3 linked regions of the Homo sapiens genome follow. The protein of the gene in region 3 interacts with the protein of the main gene of each other region in a pairwise test. Each region holds a gene or a part of one and is shown on either strand. Other genes may lie near its edges. The genes, in order: PELI3, BAHD1 and ERN1.

Region 1 (3,745 bases), on a different chromosome or scaffold from region 3:
GGGAAGTTCAGCAACTTGCAGAGGCAGGATTTGAACCAAGCAGTTTTGCTGGAGAACCAGAGTTCTTCACCCCACACCACACACACTAGGTGCTTTAGGAAAGGCAGCTGGTGTTAACATTTTTCTCATCTGATCAGGAAGTTGGGTGGTTAGAGTTGTCACAGTACTTTGTGAAAAATGGGAAGATAAAATAATAATTATGAATTGAGGTGGGTTTGGTCAATTTTGTCTTTCAGCTAGGAAGGTGAGGAGGGACAAACAGCTGAAGGCCCTATGTGGGGGGAGGAGGGGTCGGGCCCTTGTTCTGGCTGCGTTGGGTGGGTGTCTGGTGCTTCACCCCTTCTAGGCCAGGGATGCTCACCCCAGGACGATGAGTTCACCATACTTGATGGGCTCCTCGCCTGGCTGCGCATCTTCACCGGGAGAGGAGAGAACGCAAGAGCCCTTGTTCCCCCGGTGCTGGAGGTCTGAGGTTCGGGGGGACCCCACTTCAGGGTTTCCTTCCAGCACCATTCTGGGCAGAGTGGGAGAGAAAAGAGCTTTGTAGGTTCCCACCCCAGCCCGGCTCAATTCCAGCTGCAGCCTGCTGCAGGGCCGCCTAGGCTAAGGCAAGGGTGACCTTTCACCGCCTCTACTGCTATGGCAACCACTTCCCCTCTGCCTCCTCTAAACTGCCCGAGGTTGCTGGGATACCAGGGAGGGGTGGCACAGTGAAGAGAGTCAGGATATTCAGTGGTGCCAAAGAGATGGACCAACTTGGGGTGGCCAGAGGCTGCTTTTTGGCCAAGATCCCAGTCTGGGATGTGCTTCAAAGCGGGGCACCCAATGAGTTGGGGGCCGTTACCCCTCATCTCAGACTCAGTTCCTGCTTATAGCTCTTAGCCTCTGGACCTCTGATTTAGCCTCTCTGACAGGTTCTTTGAATCTACCTGTCCATCTGAATCTTTCTTGCCCCTTTGAGGTCTAGGCCTCTGTCTGTCCATCTGCTTTCTCAATGACTCTCTGTCCTCCCAGCCGCTGTCCTTTTTGCCGTCTCTCTCCCCCCATTCCCCATCTCTGCCTGTCTGCCCGCCTCCGCCTCACCATCTGCCTCAGTCTCCCCATCTCGGCCTCCCCCTGCGGGTAGGCCAATAGACTCCTCCTGGGTGCGCGCTCTTCCCTCCCTCAGGTGTCTGTCTGCGTCCCCAGCCGCCCGGGTCTCAGGAGGCCTGCGGAGGCGGCGCTCCCCCCTCGAGCTCGGGCTGCAGCACAGCCGTCTCCCGCAGGCAGCCCGTTTGGAAAACATCCCCGCGCCAGAGGGACCGCGCCGGGGCAGGCCCGCGCCCTGCGCCCCGGGCGGGCAGAACGGGAACCGCGGCCCAGCACCTACGCAGGTCCACACCCGGCGGCCCCTCCGCACAACACGCGCGCGTGCACGGCCCCGCACGCCCCGGGCCCGGACGGCGCAGAGACCACCCGCACCCGCGACCGCAGGGACGCGCGGGCGCGCAGCAGCCACCGGCGCCCGCCCTCGGACCCACTCCCTCCACCACCCCCAGACACGCAAACACGCCCCCCGCGCCCGCCGGGGCCCGCCTGGCGCAGCCCCCGCCCCCTCCGCCCCGGCGGCCTCACCTGGCCACGCTCCGGGCCCCGCTGGGCGCCGCTCCCTCCCCGCCTAGCCCCTGCTCGGCCCCGGGCCGCTGCGGCGGGATGGGCCCGGCCCGCGGCGGCTCCGCGCTGCCTCGTCACGGGGACACCCAGGGCCGGGGGAGGGGGATGAGCGCGAACAGCCACGCTCCGCCCCCTGTCCGGAGGCCCCGCCCCATTTTCCCCGCCCCTAGGAGAGCTCCGCCTCGCTCCAGACTCCGCCTCTTGCGGCGATGCTCAGCCTTCGTAGGCGGAGCTCCGCCCCTTCGCAGGAGACCACGCCCTTCCCCTGGTACCGCCCTCTGACCAGGGAAGCCCCGCTCTCCACTCCGTCTGAGGGACTCCCTTGCCCCTCCTAGCCGGCTCAGGACTCCCCCGTAGTCTACACGACCCCTCCCCCATTTCAGACTCCCCAAACTCCGCCTCCATTTCCGGGGACTCCGGGGTTCTCCCAGAGACATGGGCGCCCCTCCCCACTGTCGGTCAGGGCCCTCACACGGCGCTGGAGGCCCCTTCCCTAGCCTTAGGCCCGGGACTACGCACCCCCAGCTCCGACACCCCGCCTACCATCTGGGGACGCCACGCAATTAGAGGAGAGGAGGAAAATGCTAAAGGCAAAGGGGGTGTGCGGCAGCGGTGGAGGCCGGGGAAAGCAGCTGCAGTTGACCAGAGTCGCAGACCTGTCTTCCAGCCCAGCTCGGGCACCCCCCATTCCCCTCCCCTCAGTCCCCTCCCCTCCGCCAGGATGCACACACCCCCCGCTGTGCTGCAAAGGAAAGAGAGTTTTGGGGGAGCACCGCCCCTTCTGGGCCTGGGGCTTGCGAGAGATCTATCAGTCTACGTTAGGCGCTGTGCGCTGTGCTTTGAGCAAATTAAACCCTTTACTTTAATCCTGGGAGGCAGGCACGATAGTTGCCCATTTTACAGATGAGGAAATAGATTTACAAAAGTGACTTGCTTGTTGTAGTTTGCTAGAAACGGGCCAAGAGAGAATCTCAGCTGTATGAGTGGCTTCAGTCTCAACTCCTAACTTCGTACCTTGTCGTTCTGACTAGGGATGGAGCCTCAGAGGTGCAGAAGAGAAACCTTGTCTGCATCAGGTAAGGTCCCTATTGCTCAGTACTCTTGGTCTGGAACTATAAAGGCTGGATTATAGTTCCAGATCAAGTCTTTGGTCTTGTGGGGGGCGGTGGGGGTGTTTAATGAGAAAATCAAGGAAGACTGCACAGAGGAGGTGGCTTTTGACTTCCATTATGAAGGATGCATGTTTAGTTTGCCTAAACATTCCTGAGAGGGAGCCGCTGCCACTCCCACCCCCACAAACTTGTTGCACCTGAAGTTCCCCATCTACCAGACTCCCCTGGGGCCCTACTATATCCACCCCGCTAACTCCTCCACCTAAAAATAGCCAAAGATACCAACTGCTTTGCCAACTGTTCTGGGGCCCAGCGGCTAGATGAAACAAGAAAGCAGCCGACGGCACATCCTTTAGGGGAAAAGACACTCGTTAGTCACAGAGAATCTCCCTGCGAGACTTCCACCAAGCAGGACACCACCAGACCGCTGGGCTGCTGGCTGCAGGTCACACAAACCCTGTGACACAGGATAGCTGCCCTCACTGATGCCACCAGAGGCGTCCATTGTGCTGGGTGTGCACGGGGACCCTGGGACAGCCTCACTCCCTTGTGTACCCCCAGCTTTTAATGCATTGCCTGCCAGAGCAGGTCCTCAGTGAATATATACTGAATCCCTGTTATAATCCCCAATTTACACACCAGGAAGCTGAGGCTCAGGCAGAAGAAGAAACTTGCCCCAGGTCACAAGCCAGGCAGATGTGGAGCTGATGCTTCACAGGAGCCCCAGTGCTTCCACCTGACACTGGACTGCATGGAGGAAGGTCTGAGAGGGATCACCAAGACTCACTGGAGGAGGAGGCAGGGATTTCTCCTGGGGCAGTACTGGGATTGGAGCTGCATGGTGGCACAGCCAGACCATCAGGCCTCAGGGAGGCTGAGGTGGGCCCGACACCAGGATTGCCCAAGTAAGGGAGAGGAAGGGAGAGTTAGGACACCAGTAGCAGATGCCTAAGTTCCAACCTTGGCTTCTGGCTCTAAAT
Region 2 (3,745 bases), on a different chromosome or scaffold from region 3:
TGAAAGAGAGGTGGTTGGAACATCCTTTTTAACTCCGAACTTTTTTTTTTTTTGAGACAGAGTCTCGCTCTGTTGCCCAGGCTAGAGTGCAGTGGTGCTATCTTGGCTCACTGCAACCTCCGCCTCTCGGGTTCAAGCATTTCTCCTGCCTCAGCCTCCTGAGTAGCTGGGATTACAGGTGCCCATCACCACACCCAGCTAATTTTTTTGTATGTTTAGTAGAGATAGGGTTTCACCATGTTAGACAGGCTGGTCTCAACCTACTGAGCTCAGGCAATCTGCCCGCCTCAGCCTCCCAAAGTGCTAGGATTACAGGCATGAGCCACCGCGCCTGGCCCTGATATTAATTTTCTAAGGCTTTCATAATGCTTGGGAATAGGGGTTCTAGAATCAGCCTGGGTTCTGCCACTTACTAGCCATGTGACTTCAGGCAAGTCACTCTGCCCCTCAGAGCAACTGGCTGGTTTTCTTACGAACACATTAACTCATTTCATCCTTACAAAAACCCTGTGAGATAGGTATCATTACACCCATTTTATAGTTAAGAAAACTGAGACACAGAGCAGTTACTGACTCGCCCATAGTCACATGGCTAGGAAAGTGGGGGAGAACATTTCACTCCAGGCAGTCTGGCTTCGGAGTCTGTGCTCAATTACATGCCAAGCAGCCTCCCATATGTAAAGCACTCAGAACAGTGCCTGGTACATGGTGTTTACTGGTGTCCTTATTATTAGGGAGAGGGGATAAGGGTCTAGACTTGGGGAATGGCACAAAAAAAGAAGGAAAACCCCAAGCAGCAGCCTGTTCTCATGTCATAAGAACTCTAACTCAAGCCACAACCTGAAACAACCAGTCTGGCCAGGGCCAACTGGTCTATAAAGTTGTTTTATAGACCCCTACAAGAAAGGATGTCAGGGGAAGGGAGATCTGGAAGGTCCAGCCCTCACCTCCCCAGCAGCAGGGCAGACCTGCTGGCCAGCATGTCTCATTTCCACCCAGGAGGCAGGCAGGGAGCCTGAAGAGGCAGGTGAGGATACCTCTGCCAGTTTAGGGAAGAGAAATGATTCTGGGAGTGTCTCAACAGCCGGAGCATGGGCCTCTCAGGTGTCTGGGTCTTGTCAGGCAGGCAGACACCAAAGCTGTGGGCCCTGATCGCATTCCATCCATGTCAGGGAACTCTGCTTGTCTGTTCTCATGGTGCACCCTCTCTATCCACACCCAGCAAAGTGATGCTCAGTCTGGGCACTTCTCTTTCAATGCCTCTATAGCCAGGGCAAAGCTGCCCTGTGCAGTAGGTACCACCTACTGAGCCTGGTACCTACCACCTTTCCCATGAATGCTGAACTTGGCCAGCATGCAGAGAGTACTGGTTTCTAGAAACTAGGGAATTCTAGCTTTCCTCAAGGAGGGTAGAAGGGCCGTGAGAACAATTTGGTAAAAGTCCTAATTCCAATATCTAACCTGCTCTTCAGAGTCTAAGAACGGGTATCCCAATGAGGAGAGAAGAGAGGCCTTCCTGTGGCCTGTACCACTGCAATGCTACCTAACTGCCAGGCCAAGAATCTCCAAAGGTAGCCTGGGCAGAGCAAGGCTGTCCAGAGCTATACGGGCCCTGTTCTTGGGAATGCTCCTCGGCTTGGGGCACAGACTACGGGAGTTCTCACTTCTGAAAGCCCCCTACCTTCCAGTTAGCAGCCAGACCCCAAGGGAGACCCCTGCTCAGATCAACAGCCCAACCTCCTGGGATGCCATGTCTCCGAGACTCCCCAGTACATCTTGGGCCCAGGAAGCCTCACCTGCTGCAAAAGGCATTTTGTATGGGCAGCCGCCACAGGTAGTGCCAGCGTGGGTAACAGACAGGGGCAACACTCCGCAGATGCTGTAGCCATTCACTCCAGTGTCCTCGCTAGAGCAGTAGCGAGAGGAGCCCCAGGGAGGGTGCTGGAAAGGGGTGCCTGAGGGCACTGAGCTCGGAGCTAAGAGGAGCCCCTCCTCGTGAGGTGCAGCCACTGGGGACAGCTTGCCCTCAGGAAGCATGGGGCAGGGCGAGTAGCCCCCACACTGCAGCCCCTCTTGGCCACAGTACAGGTAGAAGCTGCCTAGTGCAGTGAGCTCAGGCCCAACACACAGGCCATTGTAGTCGGCGGGGTTGCCAGGCATCGGCAGCGGCGACAGCTGAGGTGTGGGGAAAGAGGGCTGATGCAGTTCCTGCTTAGGGGCAGGTGACTCCTCGCCTGGGCGCCCAGGCTCCGGCTTCAGAGCCGCCTGTCCACCCATCAGCAGGGGCAGGTGAGGGCGCAGCCCCAAAGGGCTCTCCAGAGCCTTGCTCAGGGGCTGATGAGATGGCTGGACGGATGGCCCACAAGGAGTTGCAGATGGCCATGGTTCATCAGGGCAGCCTTGCCAGCCAGGTGGGCCTGCAGCCTCCCCAGAGCTGGCCCCCTGCCAAGCCTTGGGATAGTTCTTGCCATTGACCTTGGGCCACTTTGGCCTCGGGGCCTTGGGTGCTGGGGGCTCAGTGGAGCGCCCATCTACTTCTGCATGGGCACGAGGCAGCCGCAGGGGTAGCTCCCGCTCCTGGCTCAGTTTTAGGAAAGCAGCTGCGTTCAGGCTAGCCAGTCTCTTGGGAGCTGGGTCTCCATCTCGGCGGGGACCTTCATCGGGTGCTGGCTCTGGAGACAGGTCCCGACTTCCTCCTCCAAGGTCCCCCAGCCGGGGCCGCTTCTTGGAGGAGGACCAGCCCCCAGTAGCACGATCACGGTCACGGCTGCGGTGGGGATCCCCTGCTCGACTGCGGCGGGTGCCTGCCAGGCTGCTGGTGTCCTCTCGCTCCAGCAGCAGGTTATTGAGAGCTTCAGCATTGAGGGAGGCCAGGCGCCGCTTGCGGGGCTGGGCAAGGCCAGGGTCTTCACTGGATGGGGCCGGGCTGGGGGGCTTGGGCAGGTCAGGCGGTAGCTCATCAGCCTCATCTGCACTCCGGGGACCGGCCACATTCTCCAGGCGAGTCAGCAGCACTTTGCAGGCCTTGGGCTTCTCAGGAACCAATGGGCGCTTACGAAGTGGGTAATTCTTGCGGCGCCCTGTGAGGTGACCTGGGCTCTCGGGCATGCCTGGCTCCACACCCTCAACCCCCTGCTCCATGTTGCTGTCTTCCATCTGCAGGGGCTCTCGGCGGCCAGTGAGGCCCGAACTCAGCATGGGAAGGGACTTTCTCCGAGTGTGTGTCATGGAGTACTTCCAACCTGCAGGACAGAAGGTGGGCAATGAGAGAAGCCCTCTCTGGCCTGCTCCTGCCTGCTTTCTCTCCCACTGCAGCCTACCCAGCCCCAGGTGCAGTGATCCTGGCCTACAACTACCCTGTCTCCAGTATGGATTTTCCTGGGACTCCCTTTCCAGAGTGTGAAGGGGCAGTGGAATCAAGCTACCAGCAGCTGTGCAAGGACTGGTTCCTCCTCTTTCCTTTTAGCCTAGGGTATCTCTGAACTAAGCCCCTGAAGAGCCTAGGGAGCAAGGCAGACCCCAGGGACAGGGGATAGGAGGAGCTGGTGGCAAAGCTCTTTGTTCTCTCCCCCTGTCCTTCTCTCACTAGATATTCATCACAGGATAGGAAGAGGCTCTGAAGACAGAGCCTCCCAAGATGGGGGACTGGGTGGTAGAAGTCCATTTATTCTTTCTTCTTTTTTTCTTTTTTTGAGAGACGGAGTCTCGCTGGAGTGCATTGGTGAGATCTTGGCTCACTGCAAGC
Region 3 (3,745 bases):
TATTTTGCGATCAAAATGACCTGGTTAGTTTTCACAAGTCCCTGGAAGACATATGGACTTGAGAATTTTCACATTATGTCCATGGACACAGTGACCAATCCATATGCTACAACATGGAAGACAGCATTAAACTCTTCCCAACCCGATCCATCTGAATGGTTGGGCCAGGCAGCGTCCTCCCTAGGAGGCAGGGACACAGTAGTGAATGCAGCAGTCAAGCACTCCTGTCCTCGAGGAGCTTACATTCTGGGGGCTTCCCTCTGGCCAAGGCCCCAGTCAGACCCCAGGAGAGCATGATGGTCACTTCTCAGTACGGTGCCCACCAAGCTGCACTCTGCCTGGACCCAAGGGGAAAAGCACTGCCCCACAAGCCTGCTTTCAGAGCCACGTGCTGGGCAGGAGGCGTTCGGGTGAGTTATGTTCAATTCATACATGGAAGACTTTGAAAAACACATTACCTCTTCAAAAGTCACCTGACATTGTCACAAAGCTTTAAAACAGTCAAATCACCAAAGGAGTTCTAACTTTGCAGAACCTATTTTAAGCAAAAGGAGATCTGGGCCAAGACTGTGTAAAAGATGATAGAAACAAATACAATATAAGAAAGCACTGAAATTTATGACACTTGGGCTGGGCCTGGTGGCTCATGCCTGTAATCCCAGCACTTTGGGAGGCTGAGGCGGGCAGATCACCTGAGGTCCGGAGTTCAAGACCAGCCTGGCCAACATGGTGAAACCCCATCTCTACTAAAAATACAAAAAAACTTAGGCAGGCGTGGTGGTGCATATCTGTAATCCCAGCTACTCAGGAAGCTGAGGCAGGAGAATCACTTGAACCCGGGAGGCAGAGGTTGCAGTGAGCCAAGATTGCACCACTGTACTCCAGCCTGGGTAACGGAGTGAAACGCTGTCTCAAAAAAAATAAAAATAAATAAATAAGCTTATGACACTTGAATGAAATTATATGATGCCTGAGATTTACTTCGAAATAACCTGGGGTGGGGAGAGGGTGAAGGTTAATATTTATTGAACCTGAGGGATGAATAAAGGAGTGCTCATTATAGCATTTAAACATTTATGTATTATATATTTGGAAATTCCATAATATAAAGCTTAACCATTATGGCACATCCATATGATAGAATACTATGGTCATTGGAATTTTAGAACTTTAACATGAAAGAAACTTAAAATATCATGTACAGTTAAAAAAAGGGATTCTGAAACTGTATATACGGTTAGATCCCAATTATACTTTTATATATGAAGAAAACATTAAAACATCAGCCATGATTATCTTCCAGTTTTAGGGTAATGGGCAATTTATTTTATTCTTTGTCCTTTTCTGTATTTTCAAAATCTGAAAAACATTAAATGAAGACTCTGGATAAAGAGAACAGACGTCTCTACCTGGAAGAACTGGAGCTGCTTCTCTAGGCTCCAGAAGAACGGGTGTTTGAGCACATGCTTCGCTGAGGGGCGTTTCTGAGGATCCATCGCAATCATCTTCTCTATCAATTCACGTGCAATGACGTCTTCTATAAAGGAGGAAAATAAGCAACTCATGACTACCAGTCCAAAGCCACAGTGAAATACCAAAAACTTTAAAAAGCTGCACACCCTCTCATTTATGATTCTATTTACAGGAATTTATTCCAATAAAATAATTAGGAACAGACACAAAACCTCAGCCAAAGAGGTGAGTCCTCACTGCATGGTTTGTGAAGGAAGTGACTGTAAACATCCAGTATCAGAGGCCCAAGTGGATACACTACGGTGCCTCCCTACGCTGGGCCATGAGCTGTTAAAGTGCGGCTGTGACTAAATATGGATTGACGTGGAGAGAGATTCAAGGTGACGCTGAAAAACGTGCATGCTGCAAAACAGTATGCAGGATTTAACTGTATTTTTATAAAATATGCAATCACGTCTAGATAAATGACTGGAATAACGTATATGCAAAGGTATCAATAGCCATCATTCATCCCTGTATAATGGGAATATATGGGCCTTTATGCTAATCTGTGTTTTCTATAATAAGAAAAATTAAGCATAAACAAAACAATAATTTAGTTGTAATTTTTTCAAAAGGCAGCACTGGAGTGTCATGGGCCAATTACCACCCAGGAAAACCTGAAGTCTGGAAGAAAGACTTGTTGCACCCATACCAGGAGACCAGGAGGGTGAGGATAAAGCTTGTCTGTCCCCAGCCCAGCACAGACTGCACCTACTGACCACTCGCCATCCCAAGAGAGAAGACAATTTGTCTTCCCAAATGCCAGTGCAGGAAGGGACCTCTGATTATTCAACCCTCATGTCACCAGGTAGAAAAAGAAGGTCTCCAAAGGGGGCTTTGCCTAGGTCACACAAGTAGTTGGTGACCTGGAGGAACCTTGGAGCATCTCAGCTTTAGAAGGTGGCGCCCCAGAGATAACCCTACCAACCCTCTACCAGATTTGGCACAAGTCTGGAGGTCCTGAGGCCTGCGGGGTGAGCAGCTGGGGCACCACGGCCTCTGTGAGTGCAAAGGTGGCACCAGCCCAGCTCTGCAGGGCCACCTGAGGCAGCTGAGGAGCTGCTCCCAACCCCAACCCCTGGACCGCTCACCGTGCTTCTCTGGGTGCAAGCAGTCAAGGCTGCAGGCACCCAGGAGGATGTTGGCCTGCCGCTGCAGGGACTTGCCAAAAGGGTGGCTGCCCTCAGAGATTACGTAGTAAAAGACGCAGCCTGCAGAAAAGATGTCCACCGTGTAGGTCTGAAAAGAGACATGAGGCGTGAGAGGTCTGGGAGCAGAGTTTTCATCCTCACTCACAGTCAGGGAGGGAGGAGCATTGCTGCTGCTTCTGCCACCTAGAAGGTGTCCTGGGAGAATCAGCTGACATATGTGAGCTGCACAGAGCAGCGAGGGCTAACCTGCAGCACTGCATGGGTGTCAGAGGTCCCAGTGGAGAACCTGGGCTTGGAGCCACCTGGAAGCCCCTGGTTCCCTCTCATGTGAGATGAGGACACTGACAGCATGGGGCTGTTGTCAAAAGAGATGCATTAATATGCAAAAATGGTTGCTTACGACAGTGCTTGGCCCATCAAAAGCCCTCCTGGCTGTTATATATTCCTTACCCCCAACACGAAAGTGCTCACAGACAGGGTCTCTGTGTCGTTGCTTCCCTGCTGTACCCCCAGGGCCCAGAATGGTGCCTGCACACAGTAGGTATCAAAATTGCTAATAAGTGAATAAAACAGCTTATGATTCAAAAACAGCCCTAGAAAGAAACTATCTGACAAGTTACCAAGGAGGTCATGTTTGATGTTAATCCGAGAAAGCCTCTCACTTATCCCATGAAACCATTCTGTGTCTACAGAATAGCTTCCTTCGAGGGAAATGTACGTTTGTGTTTTTTAGCTCATGCTACCTGGGGTGTAATACCAAGGTGGTTCCTGAGCACAGCTTGGGTCCCTGTTAGTAGGCCCTGCCTCTGAGATTCTCCACCAGGTGAAGTGAGGGTCTAGTGTGAGGAAGCAGGGGCTCATCACCTCCCATGCTGGAGGAGACACACCTTGAACAACACAGCACTCTCATTCAGCCTCACAACAACCTTGTGAGGCGAGCAGAGCAAATGCTTTCATCCCCAGATGAGAACGTGGACAGAAAGGTTGCATGACAAGCTCAGGGTCACTGCTGGATGTGATAAACCAGGATGGGACTCAGGTCTTCCAATCTCCAAACCTACCATGCTTTATTCTACCTC

The links.
Region 1: the proteins of ERN1 (region 3) and PELI3 interact in binary tests that used the Homo sapiens proteins (3 or more experiments, as listed by UniProt).
Region 2: the proteins of ERN1 (region 3) and BAHD1 interact in binary tests that used the Homo sapiens proteins (3 or more experiments, as listed by UniProt).

Annotation. Positions count from the first base shown.
Region 1 is NC_000011.10:66,464,897-66,468,641, reverse strand, and holds the start of PELI3 (E3 ubiquitin-protein ligase pellino homolog 3), read right to left. Parts: upstream 1,738-3,745; 5' UTR 1,615-1,737; intron 1,513-1,614; exon of another isoform or gene 1,084-1,512; intron 515-1,083; 5' UTR 514-514; coding exon 362-513; intron 1-361. UniProt on the Homo sapiens protein: E3 ubiquitin ligase catalyzing the covalent attachment of ubiquitin moieties onto substrate proteins. Involved in the TLR and IL-1 signaling pathways via interaction with the complex containing IRAK kinases and TRAF6.
Region 2 is NC_000015.10:40,457,948-40,461,692, reverse strand, and holds part of BAHD1 (bromo adjacent homology domain-containing 1 protein), read right to left. Parts: intron 3,243-3,745; coding exon of another isoform or gene 3,229-3,242; coding exon 1,797-3,228; intron 1-1,796.
Region 3 is NC_000017.11:64,046,449-64,050,193, forward strand, and holds part of ERN1 (serine/threonine-protein kinase/endoribonuclease IRE1 precursor), read right to left. Parts: intron 2,755-3,745; coding exon 2,607-2,754; intron 1,538-2,606; coding exon 1,410-1,537; intron 1-1,409. UniProt on the Homo sapiens protein: Serine/threonine-protein kinase and endoribonuclease that acts as a key sensor for the endoplasmic reticulum unfolded protein response (UPR).